Regions from separate parts of the Homo sapiens genome. Here regions 2 and 3 are each linked to region 1. The links come from fine-mapping of genetic effects on gene expression. A gene starts in region 1. Each other region holds a variant in brackets. All regions are shown on one strand. Distances are between the middles of the regions.

The links.
Region 2: its variant is fine-mapped to the expression of SCGB2A1 in thyroid (GTEx, PIP above 0.99).
Region 3: its variant is fine-mapped to the expression of SCGB2A1 in sun-exposed skin (GTEx, PIP 0.95).

The regions. Positions count from the first base shown.
Region 1 is chr11:62,203,949-62,212,127 of GRCh38, reverse strand. It overlaps SCGB2A1 (secretoglobin family 2A member 1), which reads right to left and starts at 3,455. Exons shown (of 3, transcript NM_002407.3): 1 at 3,342-3,455; 2 at 1,528-1,715. The coding sequence starts at 3,396.
Region 2 is chr11:62,122,766-62,130,936 of GRCh38, reverse strand. INCENP (inner centromere protein) reads right to left here and starts at 6,926. Exons shown (of 19, transcript NM_001040694.2): 1 at 6,774-6,926; 2 at 2,636-2,786; 3 at 2,054-2,167; 4 at 347-1,155. The coding sequence starts at 2,775. It overlaps LOC124902681 (a long non-coding RNA gene), which reads left to right and starts at 7,226. Exons shown (of 2, transcript XR_007062697.1): 1 at 7,226-7,280. RefSeq lists enhancers at 545-1,046, 2,073-2,572, 6,055-6,636, 6,626-6,695, 7,226-7,315. The variant A/G (reference allele first, on the strand shown) is at 3,309.
Region 3 is chr11:62,242,784-62,250,962 of GRCh38, reverse strand. It overlaps SCGB1D2 (secretoglobin family 1D member 2), which reads right to left. Exons shown (of 3, transcript NM_006551.4): 2 at 7,487-7,674; 3 at 6,151-6,293. The coding sequence ends at 6,264. Among named protein-coding and RNA genes, the nearest start is that of SCGB1D2, 4.6 kb to the right of the region's middle. The variant T/C (reference allele first, on the strand shown) is at 3,160.

The DNA of each region.
Region 1 (8,179 bases):
AACATGGTGAAACCCCATCTCTACTTAAAATACAAAAATTAGCAGGCTGTGGTGTTGTGTGCCAGTAATTCCAGCTACTCCGAAGACTGAGGCAGGAGAATCACTTGAACTCAGGAGCCGGAGATTGTAGTGAGCCGAGATCGTGCCATTGCACTCCAGCCTGAGCAACAAGAGCTAAACTCCATCTCGAAAAAAACGAAAAACAAAAAACAAAACTCGTAACCAACACATCTTTATAAACAGACAGAAATACTCCTTGTTATAACCACTGACTTTTGTTTTAAACAATTCTAGCACTCGTGCTGTTTCATACCCATAATCTGCACTTCCCACTTCATGAGGCACTTAATTAAGTGGTGCATGACTTCCAGTCATGTATGCTAACAAATCTTGGTTGCTTGGACTTGCATTTTAAATTCTTTATTTTAGGCCGGGAGCAGTGGCTCACACCTGTAATCCCAGCACTTTGGGAGGCCGAGGCGGGCAGATCACCTGAGGTCAGGAGTTCAAGACCAGCCTGGCCAACATGGTAAAATCTCATCTCTACTAAAAATACAAAAATTAGCTGGGCATGGTGGTACATGCCTGTAGTCCCAGCTACCTGAGAGTCTGAGGCACAAGAATTGCTTGATCCCAGGAGGCAGAGGTTGCAGTGAACGAAGATCATGCCACTGCACTCCAGCCTGGGCAACAGAGTGAAACTCCATCTCAAAAAAATTTTTTTCTTTATTTTAGAAAATGCAGAATTTGCACAAATTGTATTTTCTGAGCTAGATAAAAAAAAATAAGAATGTTTTGAATATTTGTTTTTGTGAAAGTAGGAAATTTCTTAGTAGATTGCTCCTACAAGTGTGTGATCTCTTGAGAACCAGATATTTTCTCTTGATAAAAATGTGCATGTTCTGGCTGGGTGCGGGGGCTCAGACCTGTAATCTCAGAACTCTGGGAGGCCAAGGGAGGCAGATCACTTGAGGTTAGGAGTTTGAGACCAGCCTGGCCAACATGGTGAAACTCCTTCTCTAGTTAAAATACAAAAATTAGCCCGGCGTGGTGGCGCACACCTGTAATCCCAACTACTCGGGAGGTGGAGGCAGGCAAATCTCTTGAACCCGGGAGGTGGAGGTTGCAGTGAGCCGAGATTCACGCCACTACACTCCAGCCTGAGTGACAGAGCGAAACTCCGTCTCAAAAAAAAAAAAAAAAATGCCGATGCCTGTCCCCGTGTGTCTGTGTGTGTCTATACTTGTGTGCTTATGTGTGTCTGTGTCTGTGTGAGAAGGGACTGGTGAGGTCAGAGGTAGACGGGTGATCTCTAAGGCTTTCTTTTCTCCTTTTTGCCTTTTCCATTTATCACTCCCTAAAGATTCTCAATGTGAAGTGGCAAAGCAGCCTGGAGACAAAGTTTAATGAATTGATATATAAAGAAAGTTTGTTCACCAGTTGCTTGGCATTCTTGGTGCCAAATTTAGAGCCCGCTGGTTCTGATCAGTGATTTTCAAAGGGTACATAAGAAGAAACCCAAATTACCATCATCAGTCCAAAGTTTTTCAGAGTTCTATGTGACTGGTTGAGGAAACACTGCTTGAATTTCCCCATAGCCTCTGCAGCGGCATCACTGTCTATGAACTCTTGAAGAAGCTCTTTGTATTCAGGTATAGATATGTCGGAATTGATGGTCTTTTCAACCATGTCCTCCAGGAGTTTGCAGCCAGAATCTGGAAAAAAAAAAAAAAAAAAAAAAGACACAAGAACATGGGCCATTACTAGAGGTGTGATTCATTCTACAGATGAATTGGGAAGCTGGCTATCTTCGTACCTCCAGGGACAGACCGAGGTTCAGAAAGATTTTGGTGCAGTATGCAGAGTTCTCAATTCTGGGAGTGTAAACTCAGGCTCTGCAAATTCTCTCTGACCTTCCAAACCCAGAGAAGCCCAACCCTGTGTATTCTTGGTGAAGAGGACCCTCGAGAAATGAGGTGTTCTGACTGGGGGGACATAGCAAACACTACTTGGACTTTCTTGGTTCAAAGTCATGCAATGCTTCCCTGTTATCATGCCCAGCATCAGGTAGGGTTTCCAAGGATTTCAGATGAATGGGTCTAGGACATTGTCCATTAGTTCTGTTGACTCTACTGCAATAAAAGGGAATGTGTGGCCAGGTATGGTGGCTCACGCCTGTAATCCCAGCACTTAGGGAGGCCAAGGCAGGCGAATTGCTTGAGCTCAGGAGTTTAAGACCAGCCTGGACAACACAGGGAGACCTCATCTCTACAAAAAATTTAAAAATTAGCCAGGCATAGTGGTGTCCACCTGTAGTCCCAGCTACTCGGGAGGCTGAGGCAGGAGCATTACTTGAGCCTTCGAGGAAGAGGTTGCAGTGAGCTGAGACTGTGCCATTGCACACCAGTCCCAGTCCCAGCCTGGGTGACAGAGCAAGACCCTGTCTCAAACACACACACACACACACACACACACACACACACACACACACATGAATGTGAAATAGAGCTTGTTCATGAGGGGATCTGAGGTCACCTCCCACTGTAAGGGAGAGGAACGAGCTCAGGACGTGGCTTCATGTGAGCTGGTTGTGCTCTGGACTTTGTGATTTTCCAGTTAGTTGACTGTGAGCTTGTCACCCTTCTACACATCTGCACCTACCTTGGATGCCAATACGGTAGGGTTTGGAATCCACCTTTGTGAACTGCACAAGGCAGGCTACCTATGGAAATATTAGCGCTGATTCCAGCAGCCGGGGCTTTTTCCTCCCACTGAATCTTTAGTGCTGGAAGGAGACTCCAGGGGTTGTGAGTTCTCACCTGTCTGCCTTGAGCCTGAAGCAACTGGGAGGGTAAGGGCATCCCAGAAGGACCCAGATCAACTCTGAGAACACAGAGTGAGCCACACAGGGTGAGAGACACTGGGTCACACTCTGCAGCCTGGGCCTTCTGTCCTGGGAGGTTTCCTATTTCGTTCCATATTCAAGGAGACCCATGATTATTTCCTGATTTCTAGGTGTAGATGCCATCTCTCCCTTGCCCCACTGAAATAGTTCATTTCAATATTTAATCCTGAGACTCATCCTGGTTTCTATGGTCACCGTGACCATGGTGAGACGCTGAGTGCCATGATACACTGTGTGCAGCTCCAATGCAGGGGACAGCCCATGAGGACACTGCATGCTTGATTGTCAGGAACTCATGGGGATCCTAAGGCCTATCGCACCCAGGCCCTTCACACTGGGGCTCGTCTGTGCTGGGGATTAGAGGTTGGGAGTTCTTCTACAGGGGCCCAGGTGACAATTCCTAGCCCAGAAGCAGCCCTCTCTGCCCAGAACTCACCTGCATAGCAGTGCAGGAGGAGGGCCGCCAGCATGAGGACCATCAGCAGCTTCATGGCGAGGCGGCTGCTGTCTGTGTTCAGTCGTGCGTGGCAGGGATCAAGGAAGTTGCTGTGGAGGTGAGTACCCAGCCCTGCTCTATTTATTCCCCAGGGAGGCACCTTAGTCCCTCCCAGGAATGAGGCAATGTGTCAACCTGGCATGGGACCAGGACACAATAGTGTACACCAATGGGAACACAGCCAGCCTGTGCTCTGTTTGTAGAAACCAAGAAGGCAGTAATATTTGGATCCCTGACAATCTGGGGACTACAATAATGATACATGGCTTTTAGTAAAATGGATGTGACAGTGTTTTCCAAAATATAAAGCAAAACCCAGTGGCGTGATCTTGTGGTCTCAACAATGTTGTTATTATTGTAGTTTTCTTCTAGTCCTCCTTCCCTTCTTCCTCCTCCTCCTTCTATTCTTTTTCTTCTATTCCTCTTGGTCTCCTCCTCTTCTCGTTATTCTTCAAGGTACAAACAGTTTCATAACTTGTGTATCTGCCGGTCCTGGAATCATCAAATATTTGGGCTATGTGCAATACCTGCATCTTCCTATGGGAGGCAGACCTTCCTAATCCATAGACATTTCTTTTTCAGAAAAGCGGGTTTTTTTGTTTTTGTTTTTTGGGGTTTTGTTGCTGTTGTTGTTGTTGTTTTGAGACAGAGTCTCACTCTATTGCCCAGGCTGGAGTGCAGTGGTGCGATCTTGGCTCACTGCAGCCTCCGCCTCCCGGGTTCCAGAAATTCTCCTGCCTCAGCCTCCTGGGTAGCTGGGATTACAGGCATGCGCCAGGACACCTGGCTAATTTTTGTATTTTTAGTAGAGACAGGGTTTCACCATTTTGGCCAGGCTGGTCTCGAACTTCTGACCTCAGGAGATCCACCTCACTCAGCCTCCCAAAGTGCTGGGATTACAGGCGTGAGCCACCATGCCCAGCCCCGAAAAGTGCTTTAAGTTTTGGGGAAAACATTAATATCTAACCTCTACTGAAAGCTTCTTGTTATTCTTGTTAAGAATTACAACACTAAGTTAATTCAACTTTACAAATTTATTTTACAATATATTTATAATTTAATTTGTGCTTAGTTCTTTGTTAGCCTTTTACGGTTTTCTATCCACTGACTGAGAGGATGCTGTGAGTGAGTGGAGTAACTGACTGCTTGGGCAGGCAGTGCTAGGCAGTGGGTGGCAATGGGGTTGGGTGATGATGAGATTTAGGTGATAAGATTTGGGCAGGTGTGGGTGTGGATCCTGGAGGCCACACGTACTCATGCTGTGTCTTTGGGCAAATTACAATGCTGGTCCCTCTGGGCTTCCTTTCTGTCTTTGTGAAACGGGTATAAGTGATGCTGAATTTTTTTTTTTTTCGAGACAGAGTCTTGCCCTGTTGCCCAGGCTGGAGTTCAGTGGCACGATCTTGGCTCACTGCAACCTCCGCCTCCCGAGTTCAAGCGATTCTCCTGCCTCAACCTTCTGAGTAGCTGGGATTACAGGCATGTGGCACGAGGCCCGGCTAATTTTCGTATTTTTAGTAGAGACGGAGTTTCTCCATGTTGGCCAGGCTGGTCTCGAACTCCTGACCTCAGGTGATCCACCCACCTCGGCCTCCCAAAGTGCTGAGATTACAGGTGTGAGCCACCGTGCCCGCCTGGCCGTGAATTTTTGTAAAGATGAGAGATACTCTGTAAATTTTTTTTTTTGAGATGGAGTCTCACTCTTATTGCCCAGGCTGGAGTGCAGTGGCGTGATCTCAACTCACTGCAACCTCAGCCTTCCCGGGTTCAAGCGATTATCCTGCCTCAGTCTCCTGAGTAGCTGGGATTACAGGTGTGCACCACCACGCCCAGCTAATTTTTATTTATTTATTTATTTATTTATTTATTTATTTATTTATTTATTTTGTATTTTTAGTAGAGATGGGGGTTTCACCATGTTGGCCAGGCTGGTCTCAAACTCCTGACCTCGTGATCCACCCACCTTGGCCTCCCAAAGTGCTGGGATTATAGGTTTGAGCCACCGCTCCCGGCCGACGCTCTGTAAATTTTTAATCACGCAGCCAAGCATGAGATAATTCTGAATAAATGGCAGTTGCATTCATGCGTGGATCCCTTGTTGTACGCATCACTGTTTTGCTTCTCCTGTGAGCTGGGCCTTGCACTAGATTCAGTTATAGAAACAGGTTAGACCAGGTGCTTGCTCCTGTGGACCTTATTTTCTAATGAAGGACACAAAGAACAAGACTAAAGATATATCAGAGGTATGAGAAAGTGGTCATTGCTGCAAAGAACAACAAAATATTCACAACAGCTGAATGCTGTCATAGATGGCCTGCCCAGGGGCAGTGGCCTGTAAGCCCCCCAAGGCAGCCTGTAGGAGCAGGTGCTGTTTCAGCTGAGACTTGGATGAGTGGATGGTGATGTCCAAGGACACATCTGGGGAAGAGAATTCCAGGGAGAGGGAACTGCAAGTACAGAAGCTTGAGGACAGATGGCACTGGCAAGGTAAGGAAGGGAAGGAACGTGGCCACATAGAATCAGGAAAAGGACGGGACAGCCTCACATGATAGAAAGCCCATCCCTGTTTAATTAGGGGCACAGTGAAGGTCATAGGAACAAGAAAAACAAAGTTGGCTCAGGTAAAAAAAGAAAAAAGAAAAAAAAAGAAGTCGATGAAACAGCCAGAGGAATGAATCCATTGTTAATTCCCTGTGAATGCATTGTTTTCTCTCTGGATTACTTGCGACATGTTTCTTTCCACCATTCAGGTGGAGCCTCAGTGGCCAAGAACAAACCTAATTTTGGGGAGGACAGAAAGGAGAAGTGTTGTTTACTTACCACTGTACACAGCTGACCCTGGCTGGTGGCCTTGTTTCCCAAGGGTAGTGAAGGACCTTGATTATGAAATGTGAGAGTGTCTCCTTGGCCAGTACTTATTGGGGCTCTGCCTGGTGCCCCAGTCCTTGTGGCCCTGCCTTGTCAGTCACCTTCTTACACAGAACAGAACTTCAGGAAAGGCCTCTGGTCTTGGAGCCATCTTTGTTGGCAGCAATATGCCTGTTGTTCAAGTCACCAAGGCCTCGTCTAGACCCAGCGCCTCCCTCGCGCCCGAGCCTCATGCTGGGATTCCAAGTCTGAGTTGCTCAGTGTTCAATCCACCCCAGCACCCCCATATTCCAGCTCAGTGTCCCAAAATGTGTCAGAAGCTTGCAAAGACTGACCTCCCCCTGCGTAGGGGTGAATACATCTGGTGACACGGGGTTGGGATTGAGTGAAGGGAACAGGGTGAATCCTCTAAAGAGACCACAAGCATCAGAAACGCTTTCTGGCCTCTCCTTTCTGAAATGGGGCTGAGGAAAGGAGAGGCTGTAGCTTCCATGGGGAGTCTACAGCAACCAAGGAAGAACCCCCTTCCCCTTACACACACACCCAAGATGCACGTGACGGTGGTGCGTTTTTCATACTCACTCAATTGTCAGAAGAGACCTGTGACCCTCTGTACCTCTGAGAGGCCTGGGGAGACACACACAGGAGACTATAAGCCCGGACGGGAAAGGAGAGGTGCAGAGAGAGATGGATGAAGGGCTCTGGAAGGCCAAAGGAGGGAAAGGGTGCTTTCCCTTAAGTGGGAGAAACGTCCTCTGGCTCAGAGGTTGAGGGGAGGCTGTGGGTAGGGAGAGGTAGGTTAAAGATGGATAAATTCAGAAGATGCCGGAGGTGACTCCCAGAGGAGTCAGATGATTGAAAAGTAAGGAAAGGATAAAATCCCTTATTCCATGGGGCAGTCCCATCCCAGCTGGACATTCCCAAGACTCCCAGGAAGGATCTGGGAAGGGAGGGCCTGAGAAGCTGCAGCTCTGCTGAGCGCCGCTGTGTTGCACTGCTGGGTCCCATCTCTGCAGGTTCTGCAGCCCTTTCTCGTAAGGGTTGGATGGCAGGTGGGTGGTGAGTGAGGACTCGGAGCCTGACCACCACTTGTGTTCACATCACAGCTCCTCCGTTTGCTGACTGCCACATTGGACAGGAGACTTAATGCTGTGTGTTCCCTTTAAAATGGGAACAGTCATAGAATTGCTGTGATTCACAAGTAAAAAGTGGAAAGTCCTGAGAACAGTGCTTGGCACAAAGCAGGTGCTATCCAGATGTCAGCTGGTAGCCATTATTTTTGAATAATAAAAAAATGTATTTATGGTAAACTCCAAGGACCACTAGGACTGTTCGACACTACTGAAACTCGGCTTCCACATAATATTCTCTAAAATATTTGAGTAACTATTCAGATATAAGCTAAAACTTTTAAGTTTGAAAACAAAGTTCTGTGTTTTGATCCATGTGTATTTGATTTTTTTTCAGCGTTCCCCTTTCCTCAGAGGTTTTTTGGTTTTATGATTTTTTTTTTTTTTTGGAACAGGGTCTTGCTCTGTCGCCCCAGCTGGAGTGCAGTGGTGCCATCTTGGCTCACTGCACCCTCTGCCTCCTGAGTTCAAGCGATCCTCCTGCCTCAGCCTTTCCAGTAGCCGAGATTACAGGCGCACACCACCACGCCCAGCTATATTTTTGTATTTTTGGTAGAGACAGAGTTTCGCCATGTTGCTCAGGCTGGTCTCGAACTCCTGGGGTCAAGTGATCCGCCCACCTTGGCCTCCCAAAGTGCTGGGATTATAGGCATGAACTACCACGACTAGCCTCAGAGTTTTATTGAAATAATTTACAAATAACTTATCACCCAAGCATCTTCTACTTAGTATTACCATATTAATCTTCCCAGAAACCAGTTCCAATTTATTGAACATGTT
Region 2 (8,171 bases), 81 kb after region 1:
GACCTTCCCGAAGCTCAGTTTCCTCACTTGTAAAGCAAGTAGGTTGGGTCAGACCTGCACCATCCAACGTGGAAGCCACTAGCTACATGTAACTATTTAAATCTAAAAGAAGTAGAATGCAATACAATTTAAAATTCAGTTCCTCAATCACACTAGCCACATTTTGAGGACACAATCGCCAGATGAGGCCAGCTAGCGGCCACCATCCCAGGACAGCACAGATGTGTAACATCTACCTCACTGCAGAAAGCTCTCTGGACAGCTCCTTGCTAGATGATCCCTCAGAAAGCCTCCATCTGAGCCTGGCACCAAGGACCACCCGCCACTGCCAAGCCCCCAGACTCACAGATGATGCGGCCAGAGGCAGCTGGCTCTTCGGCAGTCTTCTTGGCAAGCCTTCTGCTCGCCCTGCGGACAACACTTTCCTGTTTGGCCACCAGAGAGTACTTCTGGGCTAAGACTTGGGGACTCGGGGAAGACGGGGCGATCGGGCTGTGCCGCACCGATTGAGAGTCCGTGCGAGAGCCCGTGGGCGTGGAGAAGTTATCCGGCAGGATGGGAGCCAGCACCCGCTCCCGCCATGGAGAATCTGGAAAGGCTGGCGAGTCCCGTGGGCCAGGGGAGACCTGCGCAATCCTGAGCTTAGACGCAGACCGCCCCGTCCCGACCCCTTGACCCTTGGGGTCCTGGGGTGTAGCCATCAGGGAGCTCACTGTGATGGACTCCAGTATCCTGGCCTTCGACTTCTTAGGTGTTGATTCCTCATCTGATGTCGGGATGCCCTGGGAGGTTGGAGCTGTGGCTGAAGCTGGAGTCGGGGACAGAGTGCGGGGCAGAGGCTCGGTGGACATGAGCTGGGTGACATGCTGCTCAGCATTCTGGCGCTCACTGATGCCGATCTCCACCACAGGCACCAGCTGGCACTGGGTGTGGTTATCCTCGGGCTTCTTAGTCAGCATCGTGGGAGACTCAGGGGTGGGTGAAGAAGGTGCAGCCAATGCCATGGTAGCCGCGGCAGCTGCAGCCGCAGCACGGGTCACACGCCGCAGGACGGAGCCGTTCTCCCCGACCACTGTAGCCAGCTTCTCTACACTGTCCTTGCTGCGGAGGCGTCGGGAGCTCAGCTGGCTGCTCCGAGACTTTCTGCGGGATAACCTGGCAGGGGCAGCAGGGCAGAGGCTGAGACGGGCAGCAGGACAGGGTGGCACCCAGTCTCTCCAAGAGCCACCAGCTTGGATAGAGTATGATAAGAGAAGGTGAAGGCAAAAGATCTGGGTTCCAGGCCAGATTCTGCCACCTCTAGCCATGAGGCCCCAGGCCATTCTTGTCTGAGCCGCAGTCTTCCTAACTGTAAATTGGGGATCATGCCACAGTCCGCACAGAACTGGCTAGGAAGATTATATTCATCCAAACCTCCGGCTGACTGAAGTTACACCACACCGAGCCCCTGCTGAAAGCCTTACACACGCTCTGCCTTAATCCAGAGCACGCCCTTGAGAGGCAGAGACCACTATCCCCATTTTAGGGATGAGGAACGGAGGCTCAGAGAGGCAGAAATTCAATTCAAAGCCGTACTGCTCTGCTAAGGGGCAGAGCTGGGGTTCACACCCAAGCCTAACCCCAAGACCCAGCCTCTTTCCCTAGCACTCTGCAGCCCCAATCATTCCTGAGGGGGACTAAAACAAGCATGACAATATGACGGCTGGGACAAGGCACGTGGTCTACACCCCTGGTCACACTCACCTAACAGAAGGATGGCTTCTCTTTCTCATCCCACCTACGGAAATCTTTCCCATTCTCCAGGGCCCAGATCAAACACACCCACCCCCAACACACAGCCACAGATTTGGACTCCAGGGTCTTGGGTCAAGCTATAGTTCCCTGTGGCATCCCAACCCCTCTCAGCATGGCCCACGCAGTACCCGCGGTGGTACCCACCACCCCTCCTACAGGCTGCTACTTCCAAATCAACACCTTCAGAATCAAACTCCCAGATGGCACCAAGCCTCCGCAGAGCCCACTGCTCAGCTCACTCTCCCCCAACCCCTCCTACCTTCTCCTGATGGGATCTCTGTTTTCATCCTGAACATAAGAAATCCGTCTCTTCTTCCGTCGGTTCTTCTGAGAAGGTGTTTTGGGCATCAGCTCTGGCTCTTTGCTGAATTCTCTGTTTGGCACAAGGAGGGTGTCACTCGAGGCTGCCTGGGAACCACTGGTCCCCTCTCCCACCCAGCCTGGCCCCTGCCCATTTCCTGGCAGCGACAGGTCAAGCTGGGGTGTCCAGCACCAAGTGAGCTCTCCAAGGCCATGTGCAAGTCACCTGCGGGCACTCAGGGCTTCCTCCTGGAGACACGGCAGGGAAGCAAGCTCCCAGGCGCACGTCCATTGCCACATACCCTGAGAGGCCCAGCCAGCAACGATGGCGAATAGGCAAGGGACTGGATCTCTCCTGCTGCCTCTTCCCATGACACTAGGTCAGGCCCCCAGCACACTGCACACACAGTATACAGCAGGGAGCCCTGACAGGCTGTCTGTTTTGCCAGGTAGGCGGGGACGAGGGGCTGTTGTGTCCCCAAGACCAAAGCAGCCCAGACAGGCCCTGGTGTTCCCAGCCTCTCACTGTGCCCGTCTTCACCTGGTGAACATGCGCTCGGCCTCCTCTTGGATTTCCTCAAGCCACACCAAGTCCTTATTATCCATGTTGCAGAGAAACTCCATGAGCTTCTGGTCACATAGCTCCAGCAGGTGAATGGGCCCTGGGGCCGTCGTCCCCATGGTGGCTCTGTCTGGTGAAGGCAGGGACAAGAGGCACAAGTTAGGGGCCCAGGGTAGGGGTCTGGGGCTTTCTCCAAGCTGCAATACCCACCTGACCCACAACCACCACAAACACCCAGTGCCCGAACCAGGGCCCCTCTCTGCTCACAGCCACTCCCCAGAGCTGCAGAATTCCAAACACTCATCCCCTAGCCTCATCTCTACAAAGAGAAGCCCTTCTACTCACACTCTTCAAATACCTCCCTGTCCCCACCCCCCCGCCAGCATGACTGTCCCCATAAGTCCACAGTTCCCAACCAATTCTGACATTGACAGTCCTCCTTATAAATGGCCTTTTCTGGGCTTAAGATGACAGGGCACTGCCATCTGTCTTCCTGGCCACCCCAGGGCCCCTCACTCCCTGCCCAAACACAGTCCTGCTCTCGCTCTCCAGTAGGCCCTCATCTTACTACTCATGGTTAAGTGAGGGCTAAGACACAGCCACCCTGCACTACATACAAGCTGACTCCAGACATCAGGCCAAAGAACATCAA[A/G]CCCAACTGCCTCTTTAAGAGGCCAGTGAGCAGAAGAGATTCTGTGTTCCAAAGGAATGAGTGAGAAAGTAGTGATCCAGAGATATGCCCTCAAGGGGCCTCCCACAACCCTCTCCCTTGAGCTGAAATGCCCTCCAAATGGAGCATAAATAGAACAAGAAGGGAACAGTAAGCAATATCTTGCTTTTAAGAAAACTTGCCTACAAGCATTGAGCAAGAGAAAACACAAAAACAGTTTTTTCTCACTTTCTTATAAAACTAGCAGCTCAGGTATCCTCCTTAAAACTTGATAACCAGCCGGGTGCAGTGGTTCACACCCGTAATCCCAGCACTTTGGGAGGCCGAGGCAGGTAGATCACATGAGGTCAGGAGTTCAAAACCAGCCTGGCCAATGTGGTGAAACCCCAACTCTACTAGAAATACAATTAGCTGGTCATGGTGGTGTGCGCCTGTAATCCCAGCTACTTGGGAGGCTGAGCCTGGAGAATCACTTGAACTAAGGAAGTGGAGGTTGCAGTGAGCCAAGATCACACCATTGCACCCCAGCCTGGGCATCGCAGCGAGACTGTCTCAAAAAAAAAAAAACAAAACAAAAAACTTGATAGCCATTACAAAAACTTCAAGCAAGGAAGAAGTACAATCAGCCCTCCATATCTGTGAGTTCCACATCCATGGATGCAATCAACCACCAGTGGAAAATATTTGAAAAAGAGCTGCATCTGTACTGAACATGTATAGACTCTTTTCCCTTGTCATTATTCCCTAATAATACAGTATAACAACTACTTGCATAGCTTTTACATCATATTAGGTGTTATAAATAATATAGAGATATAAAGTATACAGGAGGATGTGTGTAGGTTATATGCAAATACTATGTCATTTTATATCAGGGACTTGAACATCTGTGGATTTTGGTATCCAAAGGAGGTCCTGGAACCAATCCCCTGAGGATTCCAAGAGACAACCATATTCTACTACATCACAACAGGGGCTCATTAAATATCCCAACAGGTGAATGAGTGAAAGAACAAATGAATGGGTGGTGGTCATAAGCCATAACAACAAACTGCATGCCTCAAGTCAATGGCAGTGATCCACCATCCTGACTTACCTCTTTAAAACCAAGAACTGGCCGGGCACGGTGGCTCACGCCTGTAATCCCAGCACTTTAGAAGGCCGAAGTGGGCAGATCACGAGGTCAGGAGTTCAAGACCAGCCTGGCCAACGTGGTGAAACCCAGTCTCTACTAAAGATACAAAAAAATTAGCTGTGTGTGGTGGTGCACGCCTATAATCCCAGCTACTCAGGAGGCTGACGCAGGAGAATCGCTTGAACCTAGGAGGCAGAGGCTGCAATGAGCCAAGATCACACCACTGCACTCCAGCCCAGGCAACAGAGGGAGACTCTATCTCAAAAAAAAAAAAACCATGCACAACTCAGCCTCCCACCTACAATGGAAGGTCTTGTAAGGAAGGGATAAATTGCTGACCCCTTGATCCCTCACAGGGCGTAGCACCAGGTCAGGTTTCAGTCTCATGGGACTTCCTCAGGCTTGATTCAAGGACACAGTAGTCTTTGTTCCTCAACAAGCTCTGCCCTGCGTCTGGAACATTGTCTCACATTTTGTATGGCTCACTCCTCATGGCTTGGATCTCAGATCCTCAGGAAAACCTGAAAACCAATCTAAAGTAGCCCCAGCCATGATCCCATTCATTGATTGTAATTCTCTGCAGAGCACTTGCGTGCTTGTTTACCTGTTGCTTACTGCCTGTCCCTGCCCACTAAACAATTGCTCTCTGAGGGCAAACCCCTGTCTGTCTTGCTCATCGTTGAATGCCCAGAGCACAGCAGTGCCTGGCAACAAGGACTATTTGTTAAATGAATTAATCCACCCATCAACTCTACACCTAGAAATAAACATCCTATAGGTGCTCATCCCACCACACAAAGGGCACCAAATAAACTTAATCTGCACAGGTTAGAACTGACCAACACATGTTCAAAACCCCTGTTCCCAGATGCCAAGGGCAGCAATAATCAGGGCAGGGCCAAATGGGCAGGATCGTACAGGCTTTGGGCTGAAACCTCGGCTCTGCAGCCAGCCAATCATGGGCAAGCCCTTTTCACTGTCATCCCTCACCTTCCCCTAACCCTTCTGCACCCAGACCACAGCCCTGGCAAAGCGCAGGACCTCAGGCCAGAAAAGAGAAAACTGTTTAAGGAAGCCAAAGGTTTGCAGAGAAAAGCAACAACTGGCTAACTTTTTAAAAAGTATTTGTTCAAATGGGCAACGTGGATGAGAGCTTCTTTCACAAAGTCCATGAAAGCAATTGGACTTCTTTCACGGGGAGGTTTGCTTCTAGCAGACCTTAGCGCAACGATTTAAAAAGGGTTACCGTAAGTTAAAACAGAGGTGACCCTGAAAAAGAAGGAATCAGTGTACCAAGAATCAGGCTCCTGGAAGAGCAGCAAAAATCTCTTCTTCAACCCATGTAAGCACCTGCACACAGATAAAGAGCACTCAACACCTCACCGAGGAAGACACTCTCCAGTCTTCCTCCTCTCCAACACTTCTTCCACACCATACACCAGACTGAAGGCCCCATCGTCCTCCTCTATGACTCCTGTCCTTTTCAGGGTGCTGTAAGTTGGGCGCCTACCACACCTCTGTGCAGAAAGCGCATAGCAGCTGCTCCCATTTACTGAGTCATACTCCATGCCCGAGTCAGACATCATCTCATTTAATTCTCACCACAACCTTGAGGATACGCATGGGCAGATGAGGAAATTGAGGCAAAGAGAAGTCAAAATCAGCCGGTAAATCAGGGGCATAAATAGAACCGTGCCCTTAACCACGGGCTATACCGCCTTTAAACCGTGCCCTTAACCACTGGCTATACCGCCTTCTAGATATCAACTTCTGAAAGGCAGGTGCCCAGTCTTGGCTCTGGGCAACCCCGCGAGCAACCCATGTTAGCTGAATGAGACTGAACCGCTGACAGCGAACAGGCTTGGGGAGTGACAAGGGGCGGCCCAGCCTCCGGAAATGGTCAGTTTAAAATGCTGCTCAGCTGGGGGCGGGGGCGTTGAGAGAGGGGTTTAACTGCACAGAAATGCCATCTGGCATCATTCCGCCAAACAACCGGGTTGGTTTCGGGCTTCCTGCGCGTCCAAGTCAACACTAATCCTCACAGGCACAAGGTGCCAAGCAGCCGGGAGCGGAGGGAACGGGGCTATGCTCTAGGAAGCTGAGGGCCTAGGTGGAAAGGGTGGGAGGCATCTCGGGCCCGAGAACCAAGGCAGGCGACCTCGCCACTTGGAAGAGGTGACCCTCATATGCCCAGGTAGCCAGGGGCTGGGGTGGGGAGTCACGACCCTGGTCCGGAGTCGACAGGGACGGAGCAGAGGACCGGGGAAAAAATCGCGAACCACCCCCCAATCCCCACGCCCACGCGCACTCACTCGACTGCGCCACGTCCCCTGAAGGCTGCTCCGATCCAAGTCCGGTGGTATCCCTAGGTAAGGCCCCGCTTGCCCAGACCCACTTGGCTCCGGGCCTTCGGGACTCACCGCACGGGAGGAGCAACCAGGCGGCGCAGCGCGGGCGAAAACTATGATTTTCAAAACTGAAGGCTCAGCCAATCCTCGGCAAGTTTGTCCGGGCGGTTGCAAAATTTTAAGCCAATCAAATAACAGGAAGTACCAGTCAGCCCTCCTATTGGCCATATCCACTAGCAATCTGCGGGACTAAGAGGCGGGGAAAGGAAGCGAAAGACTTTAAGCCCCCTCAGCTTCCGGGTGCTGCGGCCGCGGCCGAGAGAGGAAGTAGATCCCCGCCTGGGAGGAGCCCGCAGACCTGGAACTACGAGTCCCGGCGAGCACTGCGAAGGCCACGCGCGGCTTTCTTTCTTCTCCAAGCACGGTGGCAGTCTTCTGATCTCTGCTGCTTTTTTTTCCTCATAAAAACATGTATGTATATACTTACATTGCTGAAAGACCAGCTTTTTAATGTAACAAATTATCTAGGTACAGAAGTCATAGGTTCCTCTTCCCATGAGAAAAACATTCCTCAAAATACAAACCAAACAGCATCCCAGAGGGAGTAAAATTTCATTGTACTGAAACATATACAAATTAAGGCTACCTTGGTATATAAACAATTTAGAAATTATGATGGAATAGTTCCACCAAATCATTTACGTATAGGAATTCATGCCATTTTTTAAAGAATTGGTAGTGGGGCTCAATTCAAACAATATTATGCATCCTTACATTCAACTTAATACACTTAGCAGCTATAAGGAGTGTAACTGTAACCCCACTTCCTGAAATCTCAGGAGTAATGTTAAAAATCCAAACCCATCAAAGGCCAGGGTGTTACGGTATTTGGCTCATGAATCGAAAAGCCTAATCATTTCAATTTAATCTTTACAAGTAGAACAAGATCCAAACATGGGACGTTTTCTTATTTTTCTTTGCTTTTGTGGTTGTAATGCCCTTTTGGTTTTCTGAGCAAGCTGAATACATCTGATAAATACTACCATTGGACAAAGGATCTAAACATTGAGATGTTTTACTAAATCAAGGTTTCAAGTTGGCACAATGTTTTTACTAAGTCATATTTCAATTAGTTCATCTTTCCAATATGGAGGCGGGGGGGGAAAGACAAGGACTAATATGTCCTATAAAGAATCTCTGGCCGGCGAGATCCCGCCACTGCACTCCAGCCTGGGCGACAGAGCGAGACTCCGTCTCAAAAAAAAAAAAAAAAAAAAAAAAGAATCTCTGGCCGGGCGCGGTGGCTCACGCCTGCAATCCTAGCACTTTGGGAGGCCGAGGCGGGTGGATTGCCTGAGCTCA
Region 3 (8,179 bases), 39 kb before region 1:
TACCTGTAGTAATTCCAACTTTGTGAAAGTCTGATCATTAGAAGTATTAGTATAGTTGTATAGCAGAACTGACAAGGTTTCCCACTCCAAAGCAGTGACTTTCAACTAGGACACATCTACTCCCAACTTTCCCCATCCCTGAAGACATTAGTCTGGAGATGTTTTTGGTTGTCACAGCTGTATGGCAGCCCAGATACTATTGGCATCAAGTGGGCAGAGAACAGGGGTGCTGCTGAACCTCCTACAATGCACAAGACAGATCCCACAAGAAAGGATTACTTGCCCTCTATGTCACTACTGCTAAGATTGAGAAACCCTGTGCTAGAGAAATATCTGTGAGCCTTCAAGATGCCAAAAGGAGTGTGGTCATCTTTGTCCTCCAGGGGGCTGGCTCAGCCTTCTGTCCATGCCTTTGCCCAGGCTGCTCCATGCACCTGGAGGCCCTGCTTCCTCTGCTTGCCATCCTCATCTTCTCGGTGCTTCATGGTCCAACTCAGCCATCACCTCTTCTGCAAGCCTTCCTTGATATTTCCTTGAATGTCTGCAGGCTTTTAATTTGTGTAGTAAGATCTCATCTCAGTGATATACATTGTGTCTTTCTTTAGTTCTACGTCCTGTCTTCCCATTCAACTTGCTAATTAATTCTTTAAGGAAATTCATTAATTCTTTCAGCAAAATATACTATCTTCCTCCATGGTACAGTGTGGTGTAGATTCTGCTTTGACCTGAGGCCATTTGCATCTTCTTAACTTCTTTTTGCCAAATTATCTCCTCTCTGCCCACTTTTTTGCCCCTTTTCTTCTATGCTCCCTTTCCTTTTTATTTGTTTTCCAACATCCTTTTTTTTTTACAGTTTTAATTTTTAAAAAGTTGATATAGATGCATGTTTTGAAAAGGAATATAATGCAAAAAAGTGTTTTATTAAAAGTGATTATTCCTTGCCCTTCCTCTGCAGACCTCCCAGTCCCATTCTCACTTTCAGCTTGTTTTCCTGTGGGGGTATTTCCGTGTTCTCAATAATCTTTTCTCGCTGTTCTGTTGATGTATCCAGTAACTCCTATTATAATCCCTGTGTATCCAATCCCACATCTTTGCCTTTCTTGTTCTACTTCTTTTTGGTGGAGCATATCCTACAATAACTTTCTGAAAAGAAGTTCATTGGTGATAAAATGTTTGCAGATTTGCATGCCTGAAAATATCTTTATTTTGTCTTCATGCTTGAATAATTGTAGCCTGGATGTAGATTCACATCTGTGTAGAATTACAGGTTGAAATACTCTGAATTCTGAGTGTTACTGCTCTGCCTTCCTGTTCTTGTGTTGGTTCCATTATTATTCTCCATTCTTGTAAGTGTCTAGCTGTTTCTTCCAAAAAAAAAGTGGGGGGCTTTTATTTAAGATGATGTTCCAAAATATGATCAAAATTGTTTTGGTATGGGAAATCAGTGGATTTCTATAGATTTTTCAATCTTTTTATTCTAGAAAATTACCTAGGTAGTGTGGGCTTTCAGAAGCACTCATGGAACTGTCCAGGACACAAAACATCTGACAGACCCAGAGAGCCTGAACCAATCACAAAAAAGGGCAAGTTAATTCAGAGCTTTCTGATTTCCTTCTCTTTCCTCTTTTCCTAGATTCTAACTCTGTCAGAAACCATGGTTAGTTCATTGGGAGAGAATAGATGGAAGTATAAAGAAAGAAAGAAAACAACATGTATTCTTAAACAATGTGAGGTTGTGATTATTACAAAAACTTGAATATTCTAATTTATGAATTGAGATATTGAGCTTTATTTCATTAAAAGAAAATTGAGATCCATTGAAGATATACTTTAAAGATGCCTATAACAAAACCTAAGCTTTGTTATCAGAATATTGGGCTTATCAGGCCAGGTGTGGTGGCTCACGCCTGTAATCCCAGCACTTTGGGAGGCCGAGGTGGGTGGATCACCTGAATTCAGGAGTTCGAGACCAGCCTGACTAATATGGAGAAACCCCATCTTTACTAAAAAATACAAAATTAGCTGGGCGTGGTGGTGCATGCCTGTAATCCCAGCTACTCGGGAGGCTGAGGCAGGAGAATCGCTTGAACCCAGCCTGGGCAACAAGAGCAAAACCCCGTCTCAAAAAAAAAAAAAAAAAAAGAATATTGGGCTTATCATAAAATGCCAGATGGATCATAGGGACAAGATATTTGAGAAAAAGAGCCTAGGCAGAGATTGATAATATTTGTCCAGGGGGGAAATTATGAGACTCTACTTAGTTCAATGGTCATGGGAGACAGCCTTAAGGGGTAAAAGTCTGGAGACCCTGCATGGGTGAATCCTACATCCTTGGTAAACCTCAATCTCAGGTTTCTGGATTAGATTTTCTTAGAAATTGTGATACCTCCATCAAAGAAGCAATCCAGGAAGTGAATCAATGAGAGCATGGACTTGGAGAGAAGTGCTGACTGTGGGATGCCGACAGGTCTTGGGGGGGGTGTGTCCAGAGGTAAAATACAGGCCCAGCTCCCCTTCACAGGTATCTTCCTGCTGCCTCCCAGACAGCAGCAACCCTTAGAGTGTTTCGTTTTGTTTTGTTTTTTTTTTATTGTGTGTGCTTTTTTTCTTTTTTGTCGGAGTCTTACTCTGTCAGGCTGGAGTGCAGTGGCGCGATCTCGGCTCACTGCAACCTCTGCTTCCTTGGCTCAAGCAATCCTCTTGATTCAGCCTTCCAAGTAGCTGGGACTACAGGTGCACACCACCATACCCAGCTGATTTTTGTATTTTTAGTAGAGACAGGGTTTCACCATGTTGGCCAGGATGGTCTCGATCTCTTGATCTCGTGATCCACCTGCCTCAGCCTCCCAAACCGCTGGGATTACAGGCATGAACCACAATGCCCTGCCCTTTTCAAACCATCTTTAAGTGTATAATTCAGTGGCCTTAAAGGCATTCACAACGTTTCACAATATTCCTTCCCAGAAAATTATTATCATCCCAATCAGGAACTCAATAGCCCTTAAATAATGACTCCTAATGCCCTCCCTCCCTGCCCCAGCCTGTGCAGTCTTACTGAATTTCACGTCACACTCTTTTAATAGCAACTCAGGAAGGAAAACCTTACCACAGATGATCCCTATGTGATTAGCTGTATAATGGTGAAAAGAGTGAGCACTT[T/C]GCAATCTCCAATCTTTAAAAGCGATGAAAGTAGCTAAGGAAAAGGCCTCCAGGTCACAGCCCTGGTGATGCTGGGAGTCCTGTGAGTATCACAAGGGACTCTTGTCCCAGATATTGCCTCCCCAGGTCACTGGATGACTGCACCCATAGAGCTGAAGGCACAAGAACAGGGACTGCAGGAGCTCTACTTTCACAGAGATAGACACATATACACTAGATGGAGCCTGGGCATCACTTGATTTTGACAGCTTCCCAGTGGATTCCAAAACAGAACCAGGGTTGAGGACCACTGGGTAGGGCATTCGTCATTCTCATGTTCATTAGTGGGAACAATCTTGGACCTTCTTGGGCACTACTGATGATGAAGTGAGAGAGAACTTGGAATTCTTCCAACAAAATGCATATCAGGATGATCAATGACTAGAAACTTCTAGTAGTTGTAAGCATTATAATAATGATTGTTATAATTTGTTGAGTGCTTTATAGTATTAATGTATTTAATATGTTCTCACAACAATGCTGTGATATGCATCCTATATAACAGAAAGGTAAACTGATAATAAAAGAGGAATGTCTAGGCATGTGGGTGCACATGTGTATAAAGATAAAATATAAGGTGTGGATATCTGAGAGGGCTTCACAGAGGAGGAGGCATATGAAGTGGATTCTATAGATGAGATTGTCAGATGTCATCGTGAGAGATGGCTATACAGGGAAAGGGAGACCCCTATGCACTTATGCAGGGGTGTGACTCACATGAGGCCCAAAAAATGAGATATAAACAAGTATGGCTGAGCACAGAGTGCCCCAGGGAAGAGGAGAGGAGGAGACAAAGGCTCCCAGAAGCAGGTCTTGAAGGTCCTTGTGTGCAACACAAGGGTGTGGACTCGCTCCTCCAGCAGTGGTTCCTCTCTGGTTTTCTCCCAGTGATGTGAGAGCTCCATAAATCCTTGTATCTGCCACACACAACAGCACGCTATGCCTGCTGATAGTAAGTTTGATATATCTTGGTTCTATTTTTAAGTGTACATAATTTCTGGTGTGATTAAAATACAAATTTCTTTTAAAAGCAATGTTTAATTAATAACAACTGTTATCTACTCTCCTGCCAATTGTGTAATGGTGACTATTATCATAAAAAGATGGGCTTGGGGTAAAAAAATAATTTCCCTTACTTGAAAGCCTTGAGAACCAGTGCCCTCTGGTCATTTAGAGTTGTTGAAAAGAGAATAGGATCACATTTTAAATTTAGGAGACTTACCCTGGCATGAATGAGGAGGATGTATAGTAAGAAGAGTTCATAGAGGCTGCAAGACAATGTAGAAGAATTTGGTCAGAGCTGGGGAGGACATAGACCAGACTGTGATATGACTGTGTGATGGGAAAGAAGGAACTCGTAAAGGTGATTCTGGGGCAATGGAGGGAATAGAACATAGTGCACTGTTAGGAGTCAGGAGGGAGGGGAGCTGTCATTGGCTGCCTCATGTCCACCCTGAAAGATACCCACATCCTAGTTCCTGAAATCTGTGAATGTTCCATTATATGACAAAAAAAGCACTTGGCAGACACGATCAAACATAATGAGATGGGGTGTTATTCTGAATAATCTGCAGGGTCCCAAAACCAAACCTGTGTATTTTGTGATTAAAAGTCAGGGTGGTGGCTCACGTCTGTAATCCCAGCACTTTGGGAGGCCGAGGTGGGTGGATCACGAGGTCAGGAGATCAAGACCATCCTGGCTAACACGGTGAAACCCCATCTCTACTAAAAATACAAAAAATTAGCCGAGCATGGTGGCGGGCGCCTGTAGTCCCAGCTACTCGGGAGGCTGAGGCAGGAGAACAGCGTGAACCCGGGAGGTGGAGCTTGCAGTGAGCCGAAATGGTGCCACTGCACTCCAGCCTGGGCGACAGAGCGAGACTCCTTCTCAAAAAAAAAAAAAAAAAAAAGCCAAGGTGGGTGGGGTTGATGTAGAAAGAAAAGAAGGGAACATATCATGGAGGCAGAGGTTGGAGTGATGTGGCCACAGGACCAGGACAATTATTAGCCCAGAAGCCAGAAGCAACCCTTAGTGAATTCCCCCCAAGAGTCCCCAGAGGGAGCGGAGCCCTGCTGCCCCCTAACGTCTTCACAGTGATACTAATGTTGGACTTCTGACCCCCAGAGATGCCTGAGAATCAGTCGTTTTAAGCCATGAAGTTTGCAGATTTTTGTTCCAGTAGTCACAGGACACCAAGCAGGGAAACTGTGGTGTCTCTCTGTGTCCTGGTCAGGGTGCTTGCTGGGTGGGTGCCTTAGCCTGGATGGGCTCATGGAAGGGAGAGCAGGCTGGGGGCAGACCCTGTGCTCAGTTTTACATCCTGCTCCTGAAATGACTGTGGAGTGCGCACTGGGAGCTGTCCAGTTGTCAGGGGGTGCTGGTCTCTGGAGCTCTTGGGAGAGCTTGAGGAAGGAAGCATTCACCTCAGGTGCTGGTGAGTGATGCAGACGCTGAGGAGTGCTCTGAGCGTGGGGAGTAAAACAATGTGAACTCCAGGTTGAAACCTAAAGAGGACCCCAAATTGTGATAAGTGGAAAATGAAGTATACTGGACATGACGGAGGACAGAAAGCATAGTGCAGAGAGAGCACCAAGCAGGCTGACTGTGGGTCTGAGGGGACATCAGAGTAAAGTCACTGATAGGTGGGAACCCTCGGCCTGGATACCCATTCAGGCTGGGGGTTCTCTCAGTGTAAGACCAGTGGAACATTTCAATTCCTGTGTCCTTGTTACCATGGTTTTTATTCACGGCTGCAAGATGGGAAATCTGTAAGGAATGCAGGATAATTCCTACCAAATATTCTCCTCTGTGACACCTGGACTCAGGCCCCATTAGTAACAGGATGCTGGTTCTCTGGAGTTAATTATCACCCACAGCAAAAGGCCACTCCACTATGGAAACCACCCTGTACTCAAGGCTCGAGACTGCAGGATTATAACAAGACCAGTGGAGACGTGGAGAGCAAGTGATTTATTAAAGCAAGACGTTGAAACCTTTACATTCTGCAGTGAAGATCAGGGTGTCATTGAAAGACAGTGGAAACCAGGATGAAAGTTTTTACATGTCACACACTACATTTCTTCAATATTTTCACCTAAAATAGGAAAAGAAAAAAGAAGGTGGGGTCAGTCATGCTGCTGCTGGAGGTGACAGGCTCACATCCAAGAGGCCAGTGGGATTCTGCCCCCAAAGGCAATTGGAAGGGCAGAGGCAACAACTCAGTTTGGGAAACTGAGGCCTAGACCTGGTGGCCTCACAGCACCCATGCCGGTGATGGAGCAGCCTTTTCTTGCCAGGCCAATAGCCCTGGGGTGATCCGGGAATGAGGCCCAGGATCCTCATGGAAGCAAGTGACGAGGGTTGGAGAGAGCAGCAAGAGGTTATTGCCTGGGCTGTCCCAGGGCTTGGAGTCTCCTGGTTCCTGCAGTGAGGGACCCAGGACTGAGAGGCTGGTCAGGGCTGAGAGGGCTTCTGGGAAGCTTGGCTTCCAGGAGACTCCAGCCTCCCCATGTGGGAATTCTGCCTCAGGGCCCGAGCACCTCTCAGTCCCGAGCCTGCAGCTTCCATGAGCATTTGCAGCTAAACCTCAGGACAGCAACTCAGAGGCAGCCAGGCAGAGAGGCCCCTGGAAAACCTCTGATTTCTTGAGAAAGACAGAGTGAGAACATCCCGCTTCCATGGCACTGCAGGAGGTAGACTAGCTAGGGTCTTGGACGACTGGCCATGGTCAGGAGAGTGTCGTGGGTGTGGAGGGGAGTATGGGGTCTCAGGAGCTGGGAGGGGCTCCTTCCTGGCTCTGCAGAAGCTGCAGAGAAGTCCAGCCTGCCAGTGCTACATCTGCAGGAGCCCCTGCTCTATGTCCCTCCCTGCCTTCCTCTCCCTGTTCAAGGCTCCCATGCTCCCCAGGACATTCCACAGTGACTGTGTCCATTACATGAGGGCAGTTTGGTCTCAGGAAAGCTCCCAGCAGCGAGGCGGCCATGCTTGGCCCTTTACCATTTCTGCCTGGGCCCAGGCTCACTCCCCATGTCCTCAGCACACTCTGGGGACATGGCATCCAGGCAGGTGACATGAGAAGGAGGAACATGCAGGAGGCTGTGTGCAGCTGAGTTGAATTCTGCAGGTGAAATGGTGGCACCCACCCTGTGGCCCCAGGTGACCTTCTCAAGAGGTGACCAGCAAGGCAGCTGCCCCACCACCTGTGTCCCCAACAGAGCAGCAAGCTGACCTCACTTCATACTGTGCAGCTGACCAGAAGCCTTAACAAATAAAGGAGAAAGAAGTTACCAGGACTTCCGCAATGAGGCTTCGTTTCTGAAGGGACATCTGATCCGTGCATCTCTTCACTCCTAACTTGGCTGCAACAGCTTCCGGAGGGGCATCAAATTTGGCAAGACTTAACTTGAACAGAGGTTCACTAATGAAGAAGAAGTCTAACAGCTCAGAAACAAGAGCTGGGCAGAACTCGGCATTGGCTGCAGCAAAAGAATAAAAATATAGTTGATGTTAGGAAAGTCGATTTTTCTCTTTGGCTCCCTGACGTTAGACCAGACAGGATCCCCTGGGTTATATGTTCACATACATTTGTTGTGCTGATGACAATGCCAGACCCTTCAGGTGTGACTTCCTCAAGCTCTCACAATAAAGGAAAGCACTTCATATCAACAGCCAAACTCTTTTTTTTCCCTTTGTCACCCAGGCTGGAATTCAGTAGCTCAATCATGGCTCACTGCAGCCTCTACCTCCTGGGCTCAAGCGATATCCCCATCTCAGCCCCCTAAGTAGCTGAGACTACTGGTGCATGTCACCACGTCCAGCTGATTTTTCATATTTCTTTTGGTAAAGCTGGAGTTTCGCCACGTTGCCTAGGCCGGACTCAAACTCCTGAGCTCAAGCAATTCACTCTCCTTGACCTTCCAAAGTGCTAGGATTACAGGCATGAGCCGCCATGCTTAGCCCACAGCTAGACTCTTTTGACAG